Homo sapiens: one gene and its partners. The protein of the gene in region 2 purifies or fractionates together with the protein of the main gene of each other region. This does not show direct contact. Each region holds a gene or a part of one and is shown on either strand. Other genes may lie near its edges. The genes, in order: FBXO22, SIK1, DSG3 and APOBEC3A.

Evidence for each region.
Region 1: the proteins of SIK1 (region 2) and FBXO22 purify together in Homo sapiens (affinity purification with mass spectrometry, with the first as the bait; one large-scale study listed by BioGRID). This does not show direct contact.
Region 3: the proteins of SIK1 (region 2) and DSG3 purify together in Homo sapiens (affinity purification with mass spectrometry, with the first as the bait; one large-scale study listed by BioGRID). This does not show direct contact.
Region 4: the proteins of SIK1 (region 2) and APOBEC3A purify together in Homo sapiens (affinity purification with mass spectrometry, with the first as the bait; one large-scale study listed by BioGRID). This does not show direct contact.

The regions. Positions count from the first base shown.
Region 1 is NC_000015.10:75,912,644-75,917,961, reverse strand, and holds part of FBXO22 (F-box only protein 22), read right to left. Parts: intron 4,760-5,318; coding exon 4,672-4,759; intron 3,853-4,671; coding exon 3,757-3,852; intron 733-3,756; coding exon 568-732; intron 1-567. UniProt on the Homo sapiens protein: Substrate-recognition component of the SCF (SKP1-CUL1-F-box protein)-type E3 ubiquitin ligase complex that is implicated in the control of various cellular processes such as cell cycle control, transcriptional regulation, DNA damage repair, and apoptosis.
Region 2 is NC_000021.9:43,415,387-43,420,704, forward strand, and holds part of SIK1 (serine/threonine-protein kinase SIK1), read right to left. Parts: intron 5,072-5,318; coding exon 4,848-5,071; intron 4,620-4,847; coding exon 4,473-4,619; intron 4,093-4,472; coding exon 3,967-4,092; intron 3,852-3,966; coding exon 3,635-3,851; intron 3,156-3,634; coding exon 2,874-3,155; intron 2,389-2,873; coding exon 2,157-2,388; intron 1,732-2,156; coding exon 1,356-1,731; 3' UTR 1-1,355. UniProt on the Homo sapiens protein: Serine/threonine-protein kinase involved in various processes such as cell cycle regulation, gluconeogenesis and lipogenesis regulation, muscle growth and differentiation and tumor suppression. Phosphorylates HDAC4, HDAC5, PPME1, SREBF1, CRTC1/TORC1.
Region 3 is NC_000018.10:31,453,615-31,458,932, reverse strand, and holds part of DSG3 (desmoglein-3 preproprotein), read right to left. Parts: intron 2,494-5,318; coding exon 2,458-2,493; intron 1,941-2,457; coding exon 1,809-1,940; intron 489-1,808; coding exon 333-488; intron 1-332. UniProt on the Homo sapiens protein: A component of desmosome cell-cell junctions which are required for positive regulation of cellular adhesion. Required for adherens and desmosome junction assembly in response to mechanical force in keratinocytes.
Region 4 is NC_000022.11:38,959,451-38,964,344, reverse strand, and holds the end of APOBEC3A (DNA dC->dU-editing enzyme APOBEC-3A), read right to left. Parts: intron 4,804-4,894; coding exon 4,659-4,803; intron 2,959-4,658; coding exon 2,664-2,958; intron 2,248-2,663; coding exon 2,132-2,247; intron 1,851-2,131; coding exon 1,836-1,850; 3' UTR 1,161-1,835; downstream 1-1,160.

The DNA of each region.
Region 1 (5,318 bases), on a different chromosome or scaffold from region 2:
CCTCTTCAAATTCACTTCAGGGCTCCATCCACACTACCTGCAGGATGTTTCCCAGCACACCCCTTGCTTGATAGACTTGCCTTAACTCATATATTTCCTAAGACTCATCAGGGTCACTTTACTTGTTCCCATCTTTCTAATTAGTTCACAAAGAACTAACCCGCGTATTCTAAAAACTTCTAAAATGCTTGTTACTAGAATAAAAAAGGTTAACAAAACAAAAATAGAGCAAAATGAAATAAACTATTAGAGCAAGAATTCCTTAAAATTCAGAACTAAATACAAACAAGTTTATCATCAACAGAGTATTTATGAAAAATTTTTCATCTCTGGTTCTCTTGGGCTTTAATGCAAGTAAAATAATTTAAAAAGTAAATCAATTCTACCAAACATGTATCACACTGGCCTCTGTGAATCACCTGTTTGAATTAGCCACATCTCCAGTGACAGGTGTACTTAATTCAGATTCTCCCAAAGGAACCTAATATCCACCAACTAGCCAGAATTAAAAAGAAAACAAAATTAATCAATAAAATGAGCAGTTAATGATAAATAAAAGTAACTTACCTACTTCAGTGAGTTGATGTCTTTCTAATGTTAAATTCTTTGGATCCTTAATAAAATGAAAGGGTTGTATTTTTATTCCTTCAATTTGAGGGAATAATAAAGCAAAACCAGATTCTCCAATTTCTATTTCCTGAGGTCGATTGCTACCTGATCCCATTGGAGTCACTAGAGAAAAAGTTAAACAGTTTCACCAATAGAGTCAGTAAAAACTAGATAACTACAGTTTAGGTCACTAAGATAATCATTAAGCTAACAAGCCACTATCTGAGTAAAAGTTTTTCAGCTTTGACAGTTTTAGGGTGTAGTGTCATGATGTTTGCCATTTAACTTTCAAATGGTTCAGAAAGAAATTTTTTATAAGCAAAGTGAGAAAAAATAAATGTTGCAAAATTTTTTCAACTGCTAAACTAGATAAAGGGTATATGGGTATTTATCATGCTGTTCTATTATTCTTTCAACTTCTCCATATTTTTCAAATTAAAAAGTTGGGGGGGTAGTAAATACACTTTCACAGCAATTCCAATTTTTAAAAGTTTACCCTAAAAATATTTGACAATTATATAAAGTATATATATACCCAAGTATTTTATCACATAATTTCAAATAGAAAATAAAAAGAAAAAACCTGAATGTCCCACACTGGTATTCAGATTAAAAGTTACATTGGTATCATAGAATATAGCCATTAAAATGATGACAAATATATATTTATAGACATGGAAATATGTTTGTAATATGCTCTGAATTTTACAGGTAGATATTACAGATTGAACTGTGTCATTCCCTCCCTACTGCCTACCCCAAATTCATGTTTAAGCCCTAACCCCCCATGTGACTATATTTGGAGATAAGGCCTTTAAAGAGATAGTTAAGATTAAATGAGGTCACAAGGGTAGGACCCTAATCCAACAGGACTAGTGTCCTGAGAAGAGGAGGAAGAGACACCAAGCATGCTTATGTATGAAGAAAAGGCCACATGAGAACACAGTGAGAGAGCAGCTGTAAGTAAGCTTCAGAGAGACCATCCCCGATCTTGGACTTCTAGCCTCCCAAACTGTGAGAAAATAAGCTTCCGTTGTTTAAGTCACCCAGTCTGTGGTATTTTGTTATGGTAGCCCTAGTAGACTAACACAGTAGGTTACAAGTCTACAGAAAATTGTATTCTGGTTTTTTATATTTACATACATATATAAATAGAGGTTAACATCATAAGAGTGGTTAACTCTGTGGTGCTTAAAGGTGCTTTTGCTTATCTGAATCTTCTAATTTTTTTTTTCTAAAAATAACTATTACTAGTATAAAAAAAGAAATAAACTTTTTTTTTTTTTTTTTTTTTTTTGGAGACAGAGTCTTACTCTGTCACCCAGGCTGGAGCGAAGTGGTGCAACCTCTGCCTCCCGGTTTCCAGCAATTCTCCTGCCTCAGCCTCCCAAGTAGCTGGAATTACAGGCATGAGCCACCATGCCCAGCTAATTTTAGCTTTTTTTTTTTTTTTGAGACAGAGTCTTGCTCTATCATCCAGGATGGAGTGCAATGGCGTGATCTCGGCTCACTGCAACCTCTGCCTCCCGGGCTCAAGCAATTCTCCTGCCTTAGCCTCCTGAGCAGCTGGGATTACAGGTGCCCGCCATCATGCCTGGCTAATTTTTGTATTTTTAGTAGAGATGGGGTTTCACCACGTCGGCCAGGCTGCTCTTGAACTCCTGACCTCATGATCCACCCACCTCGGCCTCCCAAAGTGCTGGGACCACAGACGTGAGCCACTGCGCCTGGCCAATTTTTACATTTTTTAGTAGAGATGGGGTTTTGCCATGTTGGCCAGGCTGGTCTCCAACTCCTGACTTCAAGTGATCCGCCTGCCTCGGCCTCCTAAAGTGCTGGGATTACAGGTGTCAGCCACCACGCCAGGCCAAAAAGAAATAAACTCTTTTTTTTAAAAAAATGTTAAGCCCTTTAGAAACCACAGCTAGAGCAACTGAACAAATAATATTCATTTGTAAACATGTAAAATTCTTTTTACCTCACTGTATAAGACTCAAATTCAGATCAAAAATCTTTCAGTGAAGATTAAAAATGACAATTCTCAGTAGAGTACTACTGAGTTGGAACAAAAAAACATAACAGCAGCCAGGTGCAGTGGCTCATGCCTGTAATCCCAGCACTTTGGGAGGCTGAGGCGGTGGATCACCTGAGGTCAGGAATTTGAGACCAGCCTGGCCAACATGGTGAAACCCGGTTTCTACTAAAAATACAAAAATTAGCCAGGTGTGGTGGTGGCGGGCGCCTGTGATCCCAGCTACTTGGGAGGCTGAGGCAGGAGAATTGCTTGAATCCAGGAGGCAGAAGTCGCAGTGAGTAGAGATCACGCCATTGCACTCCAACCTTGGTGACAAGAGTGAAACTCCATCTCAAAAACAATACATAAATGACAGCTAACATTTACTTACTGCTTTGTGTATCTCTATTGTAAATGCTTTACAAGTGTTAACTCATTTAATTCTCACAACCCTCCAAGGAAGGTACTACTGTCATCATCCCCACTTCCTTGATGAGGACAGTGAAGCCCCATGAAGTTAGGTAACTTGCTCAAAGTCATACAGATACTAAGCGGTACAGCCGGCATTCGAATCCAGGTATCTAACCATTGCACCATTACTGCCTCAACAGAATCTCTCCTCCCCCAGTTAACTACAGAAAAGAATCAAAAATAATAAAAACCAGCAAAAATTCACCAGCAGCAATCAAGCATGGAAAGGGGCACAACCTCATGCTGTAAACATTGAAGAGTGGTACCAAAGCAGAGAAACAGAAGTCTCCTAGTAAGGCCCAGCTTTGCTCCTAATCCCAGCCCCATCTCACCCCTACCCACCAAACACAATACTGCTTGAACTGACAAAACTCTGAAAATGCCCACAAATACTTCCTAATTTGGAGGAAGGCAGAATGAGATCATTCCCCTCTTATGAATGACTACTGGATATTTATACAGGTAACCTTGAGATGAGAAGTACAATAACTTAATAAACATTAATATAAGGCAAATATAATGCCATGGTAAATATGACTGACTTTATTGTATTTTAGATGGACAGAAATAGAAATGTGGTTCTAAGCTAAAAATAACTCACCAATCCAAAGGACCCCACATTAATGCAAGGAAGAAATCATCAAGTTGCTAATTTATCTCACCTACAATTCCTGGGGTCACAATCCCAAGGACTTGGCATTGTTTGGGGAATAGCTTCTCAAGGGCAAGTGCTGTTTCCATACTAGTTCTTTTCCTTGCTGTAAAAATACAGTAGCAAAATGATAAATATCATCCATTTAAAGTCAAATCTGAGAATGAAAAAGTAAAAAAGCAAATACTGGAAATATTTAAGTCATTTAACACGAGAATGCTCTAAATAAAGGTCTAAAAGCATTGATTAAAACAAACACTTTACCTGTTTTGGTCCTGGCTTTTAAATTATAAATCTGATCTTTTGCACCACTAGTCTGCCTTTCCCCTCTGTTCATATATTGCTTTTGCCCCAGTGATGTCAAATTTAGCAGTAACAGCTGAATTTTAGACTTGCTATTGTACCTTTCTGTTCAGCTGATATTGCAGTATAACTACTATTTGCATCAACAGTCACCTGGATCAAATTAGACAATGAGAATCCATTATCTAAGTCTAACTTGGGACCTGAGTGTGCGCATCTTGGATACCCATTCTGCCTTTTCCCTCAGCAAGCCAAAAATGCACCATTTCTCTACATAACTTTAGTAAATGGGACCTCATGTTCCAATACAGTAAAAGGCCTGAATAGCCAAGTCATACAACCTGTTTTAATAATAAAAAGTGCCTGGAGAATTAAAGCATCTCAAATTGAGAACAACACCTTTCTAACGAATTTGTTTCAATTGCACTACAAGGTTTAGAAATCAATCTGAAGCAGAAAGGGTTCCTCAAGGTTCAAAGATAGATATATTGATGCATACTACAGGTGGCAGTCCCAGAGCCTCAGAAAGTCAGTTAACTCTCAGGACAAGTATAATATTGAACTCCGAACGGAAGGCACATGATAAAAAAACAGAAGCAAAAGCTTTTCTTTTGATATTTACCTCTCTTATGGCCACGACACTCTTCCAGACTAATGAAAGTTTCTGAATCAGCCATGTAAAGAACTGTATGTGGTAAGATGCGAACATTCTGCAAAGAAAAAAAAAAAATTGGAATTGGATCCCATGAATCCATCAGTGCTTCTGCATAGTCCCTTGAAGTATCACCCAGTCCATAGTGCAATCAAATTAGAACTCAGGATTAAGAAACTCACTCAAAACCACACAACTACATGGAAACTGAACAACCTGCTACTGAATGACTACTGGGCAAATAACAAAATAAAGGCAGAAATAAAGAGGTTCTTTGAAACCAATGAGAACAAGGACACAATGTACCAGAATCTCTGGGACACAGCTAAAGCAGTGTTTACAGGGAAATTTATAGCACTAAATGCACACAGGAGAAAGCAGGAAAGATCTAAAATTGACACCCTAACATCACAATTAAAAGAACTAGAGAAGCAAGAGCAAACAAATTCAAAAGCTAGCAGAAGGCAAGAAATAACTAAGATCAGACCAGAACTGAAGGAGATAGAGACAAGAAAAATCCTTCAAAAACTCAATGAATCCAGGAGCTGGTTTTTTGAAAAGATTAACAAAATAGACTGCTAGCCAGACTAACAAAAAAGAAAAGAGGAAAGAATCAA
Region 2 (5,318 bases):
ACTCAGGGAGCAGCATTGCCTTCGTTGCCTTCCAGAGGCTTCTGGCTGGTGGAGCCCCACGGAGTCCACCTGCTAAAGGTGCGCCCAGACCTGCCAGGTAAGGGCCGCCCCTTCCTGCCGCCTCCACCCCAGTGCTGAGGGAGCGAAGGCCCTGGGGCCCCTTCCTCAATGCACACCTGTGCTGACAGGGACGCTTCTTAACAACAGGAGCGAGGGAAGCTGAAACCTGGAACACAAACGTATAGTACAAAATGTAACAAATAAGTAGTGTCTACCTGTCTCCCATGTAGATACATATACAGGATTTGCTTTAAAAAAAAAACAAAAACTTAAAAACACTGACCTAAACCTCTCACTTTACCTTCCTTGAACAAAACCCAAAAAGCCTAGGTGGGGGGTGGGGAGGGGGGTCCCGGCCCAGGGCAGGCACCGCCCTGAGCCATGAGCCATGAGCCATGAGCCTGTCTCCCAGCTGCCCAGCCCTACAGTCAGCCTCCAATATTGCACAACTTCACCCAAGTCAGGTGTTCTTGTTGGACCCCATCATGAAATGCATAAACGTCAGCAGCAGCGGAAACGGGAGGTGCAGCAGGAAGAAGCTTCTGGGCTTCCGCAAGGGCACGCAGGGGCTCAGGGCCAAGTGACCCTCAGGACGGAGTCCCCAGCACTTTGAAGTCACCTCTGCCCTCTCTGAGGTTCTTCCTGCCGTTCCTCCGCAGAGTCCTGGAAAACTAATCCTTGAGCAGTTTATGAAACTTCTCAACTAAAATAAGAAAAAAAAGTCTTCCAGGTTTTGATTTCAGGGGAGAGAATTCCTAGAATCTGTAGATGATCTTTGCCTGGGCTGCTTTAAAACTGATACATGAAGCAGAAAGTTCACAGTTTTCCTTAAAGCAGAAATCAGGAAGTGGAGAGCGTTGACTAAAGAAATGGATAGTAATCAATGCACGCGCACACACACACACACACACACACACACAAGCGGACAACAATGCGCCCGCTCGTTTCCGTAGACGTCCGAGGTAATCATCTCAACCACGACGAACCCAGAGAGAGGGGCCGAGATCCCCACACCACGGCACTGCACGTGTTCCCTCCACCCCGCTCCCCTCCTGCCCCCGCCCCCAGACACGCCCCTCAATTATCTTTCTTCCTAAAGTTTCCAGTCCCTACTCAAAGTTGAGGTCACTCAGTGCAAGAAAAAAATAAAACAAAAATAAACTAAAAAGCCAAAACACCTAACGTATTGCTTATTTCGCTTCTAGAAAGTTCTTGGCTTTGAGGCCAGATGTCTTCACCTCCTCTGAAGTTATTGCTGTAAGAGTCAGTGTCCGTGCCAGGATGCAGGGCTGCCCTCACTGCACCAGGACAAACGTGCCTAGGGAGCAGGGCATCAGGTCCTCCATCTCACAGTCCCCCTGCAGCAGCCCCAGGGGCTCACAACCTGGGGCCAGCCTGGCCAGGCGTGGTGGGGGCACAGCGGGGAGGGCGGTGGGGCCGGTGCCAATGTGCAGGTGTGTGTCCAGGAGCTGCGCCGCTGAGGCCACCGGGGACGCGCCGGTCTGCAGGAGTGGGGGCGGCAGCAGCGGGAGCCCCGACGTGAGGAGGGTGCTGGGGAGCGGGGCAGCCCCAGGGCCATCACAGGGGGCGATCACAAACGGGGCAGGGGCCGGCTGGGGGGCCTGGGAGCAGCCGGGTGCAGCGGCCGGGTGGTGCTGTAACTGGAGCAGCCTGTGGGAACAGAGGACAGGTGGTCACTGCGCCGGCTCGCAGGGTTCTCGGGTTTCCGAGTGCCCGTGTGGCAGGGCCCGCCCGAGGAGCTGCCAGCCGCGGCTGCCGAGGGCAGGTGCGTGGCTGATCCCTGACCGCGCCCCACCTTTCATTCTCCACCCGGTTTCTCAGCAGCTCAGAGATGCGGCCACAAGGCGCCCTCGCTCCCCGCCACCCTCACCCACCCAGGGACTTTAAAGGACACGCCCGCCTGCTGCACCCCCATGGCTCAGCACCTAGGACCTACGCCCCACACATCTCCCTGGCTGGGAGCGGGGGTGTGCACTGGGCTACAGAGAGGAGGGAACCACTTAGCAGATGAGGTTCCTCGAGGAGATAACCTGCCGTGTGCCCACCCGGGGTCCCAGGGCGGGGGCAGGCCCTACCTCTGCTGCTCTAGCACCTCCTCCAGCAGGCTCCAGCCCTCCCGGCTGCCGGCTGCGCCGCCGTGCAGGCCTGGGCTCTGTGCAGGGGCGTGGAAGGGGCTCAGGCCGCCCCTGCTGGCCCGGCTGGCGGGGGCCTGGCACACCTGGCGAGCCAGCCCCTTGATTTTGTTCAGTCCCAGAAACCCTTTGGTCCGCGTGGTCTTCCTCAGCTGCTGCCGAAAGGCCTTCAGCCCTGCAGGGAGAATGAATCAGGAGGTCAACGGCCACCCGGCTCTCAGCCCAGCATCCACGGCCCTTGGCTTAAGGGGTTTCCAAGCCTCAGGTTGGGGGTAAGGAAAGGACGGGTGACACAAGCACGTCTGGACAGGAGTCTGGCACCTAAGCCCCAGGATGGCGTGGAGGCAGCCGGCAGCCAGGGGCCCTCCCTCCTCCAAGTCGGGAGGTGCTGCCCAGCACAGAGTCGTCTCCTGTGCTTTCAGAACCAGCCATGGAGGCCGCGTGCTCAGGGACCCATGTGTGTCTATCCCAGCAGGCCGTGACGCCCCGAGCCACCAGAGCACTGAGCACCCCAGCCTGCCCAGAGCACTGAGGGTCCCACCCAGGCCCGGTGGAGAACAGGGGGTGCCATCTGCCATCACGGACAAAGTCACGTACTGCCAGAGACACACATGGTCCCCTGGGGAAGGTGGAGGTAAGTGTGGGAGGAGCGTGGCTCACCTTGAGTCAGTGAGGTGTCCGACGCCCGCCGTCCCTCCTGGAAGCTGACAGGGAGCAGAACAGCTCCTCCCAAGCCCCCCTGAGCCTGCAGCACTGGGGTGGCGGACTGCGACCCCAGGAAGGGCGAGGCCAGCCTGACCGGGGAGCAGGCGCCCAGCAGCCCCTGAGTGGCCGGGGTGCCACTGAGCCCCGCGGGGCTTTTGCTCGCAGAGAAGGTCAGACAACTGTCAGAGCTGGTTCCCTCTGCAGGACTTGCCGTGGTGGAGGGGGAGACGACTATACCTGTGGGGGGAGGACAGCGCTTTTGATGCTGCAGTGCAAAGGAATAGGCTCCCCCGGCCACTGCTGGGCACACATGGCTGCGCTGGCCTCCCCATCCCCACCATCAACCTGGTGGGAAGAGGGCTCGAGGCCACCAGAGCCCAGGGAGCCACAAAGGCAAGCCACCATCACGGTGCAGCTGCAGGGGGCAGGTCATAGTGGGCCTCAGGCCAAGGGGCTGCCCTCCCGGCACCCAGGGGCGGCCTGGGGAGGACCCTGCTGGAGGCCAGACCCCATGCTGTATCCTCCACTGGAACGACCACATGCAGGGCAGGCTCTAAACATCAACTGTGTGGTCTCAGGGATTAAAACAAATGGCAAATCCTGAGAAGTCCAACCTGAGAGGCTGCCGGGCAAAACGTCCATTCTAAATTAGCCCACCCTCACGTCGACCGTAAGCCTATCCACCGGTGTCCTCCTGGGCCCCCGGGGACACTTACATGGCGCGGTGAGTGGGGAGAGGCGGGTGGAGACCTCGGCCAGGGTGTGCCTCCGGCCCGTGCTGCTGGGCAGGGACTCCTGCGTGTCCTGCTCCTCCTCTAGGCCCGGCCCCTGCCTGGCCTCCTCACTGATGGCTGTGTCCAGCAGGCTGCTTGGGGACACGGGCCGGGGCCGGAACACTCCGCTGCAGCTGGCATCCACCGGGAAGAACAAGGGCTGCGTTGGAGAGACACAAGCCAGTGACTTCTCGGACTCCAGGTGACCCGGGCACACCGGGGGCACCAGGGCTGGGCTGAGGCGAGCCCTCTGCACACCCGCTGTGGGCACTCACCCACTGCAGCGAGCTCTGGAGCTCACAGTCCATCTCGGCCTGGAGGACGGACTGCACCAAGGTCTGCGGCTGCGGGCACAGCAAGGCAGGTCGGAAAGGGTCGGTGGAAAGACCTTCCTGAGGCACCTGGGGCCGGCAGACGGGAAAGACGCTGTCAGGGGAGCGACTCCGGACCACCAGCGCCATCAAGAGAAGAAACAAGCTGGCTTCTGTCTGGAGTGCAAGCTGCCTCGCTGGTGGGCATGACAGCTGACGGAGGGACACTGGCTGGCCAGGCTGGGCTCAGGACCAGGTGCTGGTGCTGCGCTGCCAGAAGGTGGCGTGACAGGCCGGCCCCAGGGATGAGTCAGGGACAAGTGGCCTCTGGGCAGAGTCCAGCCCCCAGCAGCTGGCACCCCCTTCCCCACGAGGCCTGGGACCCACTGCCCACGCAAGGAACCGCCCTCCAAGCCGGTGCCTGACAGGGGAGGGAGCCTGGGGCCTGGGAGGAGACTCCTCCCCCTCACCTCCAAACCACTGAGGTCCGAGCTCCGAGGCCGCGGCTGCCTGGCAGGCCCGGGGCGGGCGCACTGGGCATTCCGATACTCCTTGAGCCGCTCAAGGAGGAGGTAATAAATGGCAGCAAAGTGGTTATAGCTGCTGTTTTGCAGTGACTGGGAACAAGAGGAGCAGAGATCAGCATGGGGATGGCGGGGAGCCCCAGGGCCCACCCGATCCCAGGTTATTCTTGGGTGACTGAGAATATCCTTTAGTGGGGTGGACAAGCCGGCCCCTAAATTAGCCTGTGCTCCCGTTTTAACTCAGCTGGTGAGTGCCTGCTTCCCCTGAGACAGCTGCCTAGCCCCTGCGGGTGAGGCCAGGGCAAGTGTGGCCAGGCTCACCTCCACCGTCCTCTGCCGGTCCACGCCCAGGGTCTGCATGATACCCAGCGCCTGCTCATCGTAGTCGCCCAGGTTGGAGGTGTAGCTGTGTGCGGAGAAGGCGGGGCAGGCGGGTCCCGGCAAGCAGGGCTCAGCCCGCATCCACCGGTGCTGCCGGATCTGGGCGATGGTGATGCGCCTGGCGGGGTCCACCACCAGCATGCGGCGGATCAGGCTCTCACAGTCTGTGGAGGGGCCAGGAGGCTGAGCCAGGGCGGCCGGGACCTCGGCTGCGCTCCCACCCACCGCCCCACGTGGTTTGACACGCCAGGGCCCAGGAGCAGGGGCCGGGCCATCGGCTCAGTCCTGCCACCCAAGGGGAGCCATCAGCCAGGGATCCAGACCCTGGGGGCTGCCACACTTTGTGTCCACCACACAGAGAACCACTTAGGTTCACCCTTCTGCCGTGCCCCACACCTGAGCACCAGGTGG
Region 3 (5,318 bases), on a different chromosome or scaffold from region 2:
GTGCAAAGAAGAAATGTTTCCCCAAAGGGTAGACAAAGTGGAAAAAGGTGCCTGCTCTGGGCAGACCAACTGGGCAAGTTGCCCCTTCCACCAGGCTAATGCTGTGTCATGGCAAACTGAAGCACTTGGCGTGCTAGATTTCAACCCTCACTCATGCACCCTCTGCTGTGTTCCCTCAGGCGAGGCTCTGTGGAGGGACTAATATTGTTATTTGCTGGTGGACTGATGCATGTACTGAACTCTCCTCTAAATTTACCAGTAGAAAACTGTCACTTTCTAAAGCGATGGTATACAAGGAGAAGGGTAGCCCAATGTTGAGGACCCAAACTTACCAGGAAGCTTGGAGTTTCCTCCCGGTCGACTATAGCTGTTATGTTAATATCTCCAGTGTTTTTGTCAACAACAAAGATTCCAAAAGGCGGCTGATCGATTCCCACTCCAGAGATTCGGTAGGTGATTTTCTGGGTTGCTTGGTAATCTGAAGTAATCTACAGCCCCAAATACCAAAAACGTTGAGGTGACCATCACTCAAGCCTTTCCCTCTCCACCCCCACTTCCATAGTCTAAAGTCATCTGTTCATTCGATTCACTCTTTTTGACATTGTGCCATTTACTTTTTGCCTTGATAGATACTAGGAATATGAAATAAAATCAAACCGTTGTTTTTGACAACCAGCCTGAACCAATGATGTGCACTAATCATTTTAGTGTTAGAATATTTGCTCAGACTGTGGCCACATGATAGTGTTAAAATGTTAAAAGAAAGTCAAAGTCATTTAATATTGACAAGGCTACTCCTGAAGGCTCCCTCTTTACCTGACAACATTAAAAAACAAAAGATATTTATTTAGTTTAAATAGGGGGAAGTGGAGAGACAAAAAGGGAAAGAGATTGTATGGTAGGGTTAAAATATGTATTAAAATAATTTACTTATTATTATTGTAATTTTAAAGCTTTTTAACATGAAAAATGTGAAATATATGTAAAGTTAGAACAGTATAACAGGCTGGGCGTGGTGGCTCATGCCTGTAATCCAAGCACTTTGGGAGGCCGAGGTGGGCAGATCATGAGGTCAGAAGTTCGAGATCAGCCTGGCCAATATGGTGAAACCCCGTCTCTACTAAAAATACAAAAACAATTAGCCGGGCATGGTGGCACACGCCTGTAATCCCAGCTACTCAGGAGGCTGAGGCAGGAGAATTGCTTGAACCTGGGAGGAGGAGGTTGCAGTGAGCTGAGATCGCGCCACAGCACTCCAGCCTGGGAGGCACAGTGACTCCATCTCAGAAAAAGAAAGAAAGAAAGAAAGAAAGAAAGAAAGAAAGAAAGAAAGAAAGAAAGAAAGAAGAAAGAAAGAAAGAAAGAAAGAAAGAAAGAAAGAAAGAGAAAGAAAGAAAGAAAGAAAGAAAGAGAATAGTATAATAAACCTGATACATCCTATCACTGAGCTTCAACAGTTATCAATACATGACCAATCCATATTTTGCTCCCAACCATTTCTGTCTTATACATGCATTATTTTTCCTATTTGTTTGCTAGACTCTGTATCCAAGTAAGCCTTCTATATTAAAATTGGTCAATATGTCTCAATTCTTTGTCTCAATTCTTTTTCATAACCCTAGAAGCTACCTTCCTTTCTCTCTTTCTCTCATTATTATTATTATTGTACTATTTTGTTGAGGATACCAGTTCACTTGTTCTGTGGACTCCCCAGTCTTCATTTTGTTATTTGGAATTGCCGTATTATTTTAATTTACACCTTATACATTTATTCTAAAAACTCATACGCTCCTGTTGATATAACTTACCTTGGCAATTGGGTTTCTTTTTGAGTTATCTTCTCCTTCTCTGCAGGGTTTGGCAAATTTCACCCATTCACGTTTTTGCCTTCTTTTAGCTTGTTGCATAGTCATCTCTTCTTCATCATATTGACCTTTAGTCTTATGTAAAAAGGGATTCCATTTGTTATGGAAATTAATGGCAATTTTTGCTTAGAATATTGATTACAGACACCTAGTTGAGGAACCCCCTATGTTTCAAGATCACTAAGACTGTTAGGTATCTAATTAGCTCTACCTGATACTTTGTCAAGCAAGTAATAAATGTTAAATAACTAAAATAACTACAAAGCTATGTGATTTTTAATATTAGCATTTAGTCGTATTTTATATTTTCTTTTTATACTCCACAGTATCTTACTGGGCCCATAGGGTTTGACCAGCTGATTTGTTTAAGATAAGAAGAAAAGAATGCATGAAATAAATTATAATAATGACATTTATGGATGACTAGTTTTAAAATATTGTTATCAGTTATTAGAATTTTAATTTTATATATTTTCACAATTAAATTATTGAATAATTTTAGAAATTAAATATTCATTTCTACTAAACACAATTTAATTTTTTTTTAAACTAAACTATTATTTTAAGTACAAAAACCTTTTTCATACTTTACCTCTATTCGCAATTCTCCATGAACCAATATGACCACCTGCAGACATTTAAATAAAGTCGAATTAAATGTGAATTCTTCAAATAAGGAATTATATACAATGAATAATCCTGATTATTATATTCTATTGTTCATATTGTGATTTGTTTCTATTTCAAAAGAAGTAAGTTTCAAGAAGCCATAATCAAAGGGTAAGTTCCTACCAGGAAAAGGAATATTACTGTCAATATAAACACATTCCACCAGTTTTTTAATTGACTACAGAATTTTGATGACATAAAGAAGAACCTATTGGACTTTGCAAAAACTATGCCTAATAGTCAGTTGCAGCAACCACACAATTCTTACCTGGCTGCTTTATACACCGTTCCTGGAAGCTATGAAAGTCATTGCTTTGGGAAACATTGGTAAGCACCATTGTGAAATGCTTCAGAAAGGGGCCACAGGGGATTATTAAAAACCTTCAGCCACCCAACTGATTTGTAGGAAGGCAATCCTGTATTAGTCCTCTACAATTACAGAACATTTTCTTTAATTGTACAAGTGAAAAGAATGGAATGGAACCAGTCTGGTTTAGAGAACAAAACGTAAAAGATGAGGATATGCTATTCCAATCACAAACCCTGTTTGCAGTGAGACATGGATCTGTTCATCTCTGCTCTATTACTTCAATTTAAATATTGAACTTAATTTTCAGAGTGGCCCCAAAAAATTAAATGACAGTAAAATGAAGCCATGTAGGCTAGGGTCTTCACCTTCTCAAGAGCATATGAGACATTCATCTGTGTCATTTTTCATCTTCTGTTCTGCCTGGCATGCATTACCTCTTTCTACTCCACCCACTTAAATATTGCTCATCCTTCCAGATCCATCAAGTTCCAACAACCTCCATGAAATTGTCTTTACTGATGTCTCTTTTTCTGAGTTTGTACAACACATATTCTGTACCATGAAATTTAGCCCATGATGGTTTACCACAGTTTATTATTTCTTGTTTTATGCACATGAAAGAATTTCTGTGCTAAGCCAGGAGTATTGTAAACTTTCCAGTTCAGTGCTATTAGGTTATTTTTTTTTTCTTGTAACCCTCACAGGTGCTTAACAAGTATTTGCTAATCCACTGATTATCGGATGAATCTGGTCGGAAAATAATGGTGGAAAATAAGTCAGAAGAAAAAAAAAACTAGAAGAGTAATAACAGTAGCTAATGTTTATTGTGTAGTTTCGGTATCAGCTGCTACTCCTAGAGCTTTATACTTACTGTTTTATGTAATACTTACAGCAGGCACCTGAAGGAGATTCTAGTATTATAATCCCTAGTATACAGATGAAGAATTGGAGATGCAAGGGAATGAATACTTTGCCCTAGCTAATGGCCATAATAGGATAGCGACCGCAGTAGCCTAACTCCAGAGCATGTACCTCACTACTACTAAATTCTTTTTTTTTTTTTTTTTGAGACGGAGTTTCGCTCTTTTTGCCCTGGCTGGAGTGCAATTTTTGCCCTGGCTGGAGTGCAATGGTGCGATCTTGACTCAATGTAAGCTTCGTCTCCCGGGTTCAAGGGATTCTCTTGCCTTAGCCTCCCGAGTAACAGGGATTACAGGCATGGGCACACCACCACACCCGGCTAATTTTGTATCTTTAGCAGAGACGGAGTTTCACCATGTTGGTTAGGCTGGTCTCGAACTCCTGACCTCAGGTGATCCACCCGCCTTGGCCTCCCAAAGTGCTGGGATTACAGGTGTGAGCCAACTACTGCTAAATTCTAACCAAAGTTGTCATAAAGAGAAAAAAAAAAAAAACAAACTAATGGTACAAAGAAAATTATATGACAGTCAATTTAGATTTCTATTTGGCAAAAGACTATGGTTGCTCTTGAAACAATGTAGATTGTTTATTTTCTAGGGTTATAATGAATAGACTAGTCCAAGTCTGAACCAAATGAGTAATTATGTCAGACATAAGATGTCAGGACTCTTCCCTTCTAGACATTCCAGCTGAAACCTTGATTCCAAAGAGTGCGTGTTCAAATTTGTCATGGAAAAGAACCATTACTTGTGGTTATAACATGTCTCAAAATTATTTTCCAACATTGTTGCTCTTTTTAAAGCAGTACCTTGAGTTACTTGGTAGAAAAGACCAGATAAATGTAGTAACTGCACAATTCCTTTCTCAGCGCATAAAAATGACTCAGCTACACATGAGAGGAGGGATGGGCCAGGCAGGCTCCCCTTTACAGGAAAACTGGAGAGTCATCCCGAAAATATGAATCATGCTTGGACTAGCCCTACAGAGAATGATTCTTCTAATACACAATAAGGTAGAATATTTGTTTTCCCAGGAAGTAGGTGATGGGAAACATTTCTGAATATTGCAATGATCTTCAGATTTTTAGAGGACAGCACAGCCTTACATTATTTAGAATAGTATTTTTTTAAAAAAATTATTTTAGTTAATATTTATATAATGGCTACTTGTTTTAGTTAATTTGCTAATATAATAATTTTGGACATTTTAAAAACAATTTATGTGTTTTTATTTGTAAATCTATTTTCATTGACAAAATTGTATATATTTATCATGTACATGTTGTTTTGAGATATGTATAAACTGTGGAATGACTAAATCAAGCCAATAAATATTTACATAGTTTTCTGACGATTTGAATGAACTAAGTTGTCTCTTTTGGTGGCCTGGATTGGAAATACCAACATGGAGAAAACCTCCCTTATCTTGAGAATTACTGTACTTTTCTTTCTTTTTGTTTTCTGGTTATTTTGTAAATTTTAATTATATGATTTTTAAAGCATTGATATAGCCTTAGTGCCTTGGTATAGATATGAATTACAAATATTATCAAA
Region 4 (4,894 bases), on a different chromosome or scaffold from region 2:
GCAGGTCTCTCTGGGAGCTGCCCTGTGACATGACTAACTCTGGTGTTCTTTCACCAGGTGAGCCTCTCATGCCTCCCCTACACTGGTCCCTTTGCCCAGAATGACTGCACGTTTTTCATCACTTGCTTCCAACAAGTGGAGTTAGGACTGTTATCAAACCCAGAGACACAAGCAAAGGGCAGCTTTGACAAGCCGGTCCCTCCCGCACCCGCCCCTGCGTGGGAAATGCCAAAGTCCTCTGCTCAGGGCGGGGCTGGGGTGCGCCCCGGAGTGCTCTGGGGCACCTGGAGGAGGTTTCTTTGTGTGAAGTCTCTGTCACTGTGTGTGGGTGTGTGTGTGTATGTGTTTTGTGCATGTGTTGTGTGTGTATGTGTTGTGTGTGTTGTGTGTATGTGTGTCTTGTGTGTGTTTGTGTGTTGTGTGTGTCTAGGCCAGGGAAACAGTGAGTCGTTTCTGCCCAGGAGCAGCTGCATGTGAGGCCCGTTCTTGGTCTTATATGCGGCTTCTGAGGACTTTCCAGAAATCGTGAGGTGGGAGCCGCCGCTGTAATCAGGCATATAAGTCACACATCCCAGAGTTGGGAACCAGCGCAGAAGGCCCAGGACAGACGCCAAGCTGAAGCCACAGCCCTGACACCTGCCGCCCTAGCCCTGGGCTCCGTCTCTGCCTCTGGAGCCTCCTGTCCCCGGGACTCAGCTCCCCTCCCCTCTGTGGCTGGGCTCTGCCTCCTGGGCTGCTCCTCTCCCCAGCCCTCTCTTTGGGCCCAGCCTAGACACCTGCCCCCTCCCTGGGCTCCTTCCCCCGACTGGGCCTGTCCTGGGTCTCAGCCATGGCCTCCCCTGGGCTCCCTCTCTAGGGGGGTGGAATCAGGAAGGGGTGGACAGAGGGCGGCTCCCGAGGGCCCCTGACTGCACGTTTGTGGTTCCTTTCCAACAGGGAGACTGGCTGCTGGCTGTCCTCTTACTGCTGGGCCTGTCCCTTCCAATCAGCGCCCGGGGCTCTGTAAGTGAGGGTGGGCGGGGCTCTGTGAGTGAGGGTGGGGTCTGCATTTAGGTTCCTCTCCTGTGAGGTTTAGCTGAGTTTTCTGGATCCAGAGGGATGTTGTGTGACCTTTCCCCGCTACAGGTCCGCTACACAAGGAAAGACATCTACACATTTGCTAGTGTTTGTGGAAACTCTTGCAATTCATGACACAGTTACTGAGCAAAAGCAATTATGGAAGATTCTTAATTTTGTGTTAGTCTAGATATGAAGCCAAATTATCATTTCATTTCATTAATACATTGAAAATTATTCTGAGAATATTGAGCATAATCTTACTATTGTGTACTTGGAACATAAGAGAAATTTTCAGTTAAAATTAATTCAGTCTGGTTTTTTTTTTTTTGAGATGGAGTCTGGTACTGTCGCCCAGGCTGGAGTGCAGTAGCGCAATCTCGGCTCACCGCAAGCTCTGCCTCCCGGGTTCACGCTACTCTCCTGCCTCAGCCTCCAGAGTAGCTGGGACTACAGGCGCCCGCCACCACGCCTGGCTAATTTTTTGTATTTTTAGTAGAGACAGGGTTTCACCGTGTTAGCCAGGATGGTCTCGATCTCCTGACCTCGTGATCCACCCGCCTTGGCCTCCAAAGTGCTGGGATTACAGGCGTGAGCCACCGCGCCCGGCCCACTCTGATTTTTTAAAAATCTACTTGATCGGGAGCATACTGCTTTGCTGGCGTCTGTGAGCAGCTGGAGATGGTGGTGAACGGTCTGTTTGCATTTCTTGGAAGAAGATCTTTTATTCTGCTGCTCAACCCAGGTCTCTGCCTTCCTTAGAGACTGAGGCCCATCCTTCAGTTTCCCTGATTCTGGAAGAGCAGGGGGGTTGAATGGAGCAGGAGGTGAGAGAGTGGAAAGAGGGCACAGGGAGGTGGCCTGGGGACAGTGACAATGACGGGAGAGGAGGGAGGGATGCGGGAGGTGGGAAAGAGAAGGAGGCTGTGAGAAGGAAAGGGAGGGACGGAGCTGGGCGCCCTGTGGGGAGCAGGGAACCCAGAGGAGGCTCTGAGCAGAGGGGAAGGCAAGGCCCAGGGGAGTGGGGAGGAGGGGGAGGCCGATGGGGCACCGGGCAGAGGGAGGAAGCCCTCACCTGGAGAATGGCCCGCAGCCTCCCACTCAGGGCTTGGCTGTGCTCATCTAGTCCATCCCAGGGCTGGAAGGGACATCCCTGGTGGTCCACAAAGGTGTCCCAGCAGTGCTTAAATTCTGAAAAGGGACAGGGGAGATAAGTCACGCTCCCGCTGTGGGATCGGGGTGGCACCTAGGGCCCATGACTCTCAGGACAGACTTCCCACATCCTGGTTTCAGTCCCTCCTTTCCCTCTCCCTCCCCTAGGGACTTAGCTCCTTCATCAGGCAGTTCCTTCCCATTGGAATCTGGGCCAGCCCAGTTCTCATTCTTTCAGAAAGCCCCAAGTTCTGCTTCCACTTCCAGCCACTCTCCCTGCCCTCCCTGGGCCCACATCTCCTGGCCTGGCCTCTCTCTTCCCATCGACCCCAAAGTCAGGTCCCAGAGTCCAGCCATCGTTTCTGCAGGCAGCAGACCAAGGCCTTTCTCCTTTTCTTCCCAGGAACCTCTCCTGCCCCCACCCACCCCACCCCACCTGAACCTTCCATTCTTACCATCGTAGGTCATGATGGAGACTTGGGCCCCAGCATCCCGCAGCATTTGCAGTGCCTCCTTATATAGGGGGTCGTAATCATAGATGCGGGCAGCGAAGATACGCAGTCTCACGTGTGTGTTCTCCTGAAGGAACGCACGCACTTCCCCGGCACAGCCCCAGGAGAAGCAGGGGCTCCAGGAGATGAACCAAGTGACCCTGTAGATCTGGGCCGGGTCCAACTGCAAAGAAGGAACCAGGTCCAAGAAGCGCAGCTCCGCATGGCGGCCGTAAAAGCCACAGAGAAGATTCTTAGCCTAGAAAAGGAAACAGAGTGTGAGGTGATGTGTGGTGAACAGGGAGGGAGCGCCTGGACCAGGTGGGGCTGGGGAGGCGGGGGCCTCCAGCACGAAATTAGAGGGGTCACCAAAACCCCGGTTATTAGGATGCATGATTTTCTATGCAATATTAAAAATATCAGATGTTATGCAAAAATCCCAAGATAAGCAAAATGTTGCCCATTTAAATACAAACAGATCAGGAGCAATGAGGTTTTATTTTGCCCCAGCTCCACTATACACAGGACAGCACTCTCCTGCCAGGCTTTATTAAAATCTTTGCTTTTATTCATCATGATCTATTTGTATTAAATTTGCGTTTTAAAATATTGCATTAATTATTAAATTAAAATGTGTTTTCTCTAATTACTGAGCATTTGGAGCCCCCATCAATTTTGTACCCAAGGTCAGAGCCTTCAGGACCCTCACCCCAGACCCAGCCCTGCAGGGAGGGGCTACAGAGATGGGGGCAGGGAGGAGGGGCCGGCGGAGCCCCGAGGTCATTGGCCTGATGGCCCTGAGTGAGTGTGCTTCCTTCAAGGGGAGATTGACCTGCTCTACTCATCAACTCCCCTACTCCCATCCCATCTGTGGCCCATAATTCTAGAAGCTTCTATTCTGTGCCACAACCTGTGCTGAGCCCAAATGTGATATAGACTTAGGCCAAAATGAATTCCACCAAAAGTAGTGGGGAAGAGAAGACCAGCAGGACTCACTCCAACGTGGGAAGGTCCCTGTGACATGGTATAATTGTCATTATTTTGACTTATAGAAATATGGTATTTACTCCAAACTCCAGAGAAAAGGATTTTCCACTAAGACTAGGAATCGGTCAAGTTGGGGACAGCAGGGCAGCAAGGACTGTGATTGTGATGGGGACAAAGACAGGGAGGGACTCCATCAGCAGTGATGCAGGGTGGAGTGGATGACATGGTTTGTGCTGAGAAGGGGCTGTGGGTCGTTCCTGGGGGAGTCCCACTGCTTAGGCGGTGATGGAGACTGGCACCCTTGAAAGGATGTTCCAAGCAGTGTGTGTGGATCCAGCGAGGCCCACATTGAGCTCATAGAGCCCAGAGAAGGTCCCAGTTTCCAGCACCGGAGCCAAGCATTACCTGGTCTCTCCAGACAGAGGCTGTGCTGGGTAGGGGCCAGGGAAGAAAGTCCCCCGGGCTCAGGGCCCCTCAGCCTGGCCTGGCCCAGCTCCTCCCCAAATGCTGGACATCCCTGCATCCTGACATGGGACCTGTTCTGGCCTTGCTGTGGGCTCCACCCTGGGCAGGACAGGATCCCTGGTCAGCCTCTCCTGCCTCAGTCTCTCTCCGTGCAGGATGAAGCCCAGGAGAGGGCACTGGGGCATCCTGGCCTTGTGAGGTCAGGTAGGCCCTGAGTCCTCAGATCCCACATTGCTGAATTGTTCCTGGTGAGAGCTGTGTCTGTGAGGGGATCCTGGGAGGGTCCTCAGGAAGCACTTTGCCATTGGGCAGACTCAACCCCACCTGGGCATGGATAGTCACTGAAGCCGAAGTCTCCCCCCAACCCCAGGGCCAAGCAGCAGCAGCTGCAGGAAGCACAAGTGACAAACACTGCAGGAAACCACAAGTACAATCCGGAACCTTCTACCTATGAATGTCCCTGGATTGGAAGGGCCCTGCCCGGATTCGGATGGCTGGGTCGGTCACCTGGTTGTGTAGAAAGCCCCTGTGCTGGTCCATCTTGACCGAGGTGCCATTGTCCAGGCGCTCCACTTCGTAGCACAGGTAGGTCTTATGCCTTCCAATGCCATTGTTAAAGTTGGAAGTGAATATGTGTGGATCCATCAAGTGTCTGTGGACAGCCAGGGAAAAGACCAGAGGAGGAAGAGCCCTCCTGGACTGCCCTGCCTCCTCCTCCCTCCCCACACTTCCTCCCTTGCACC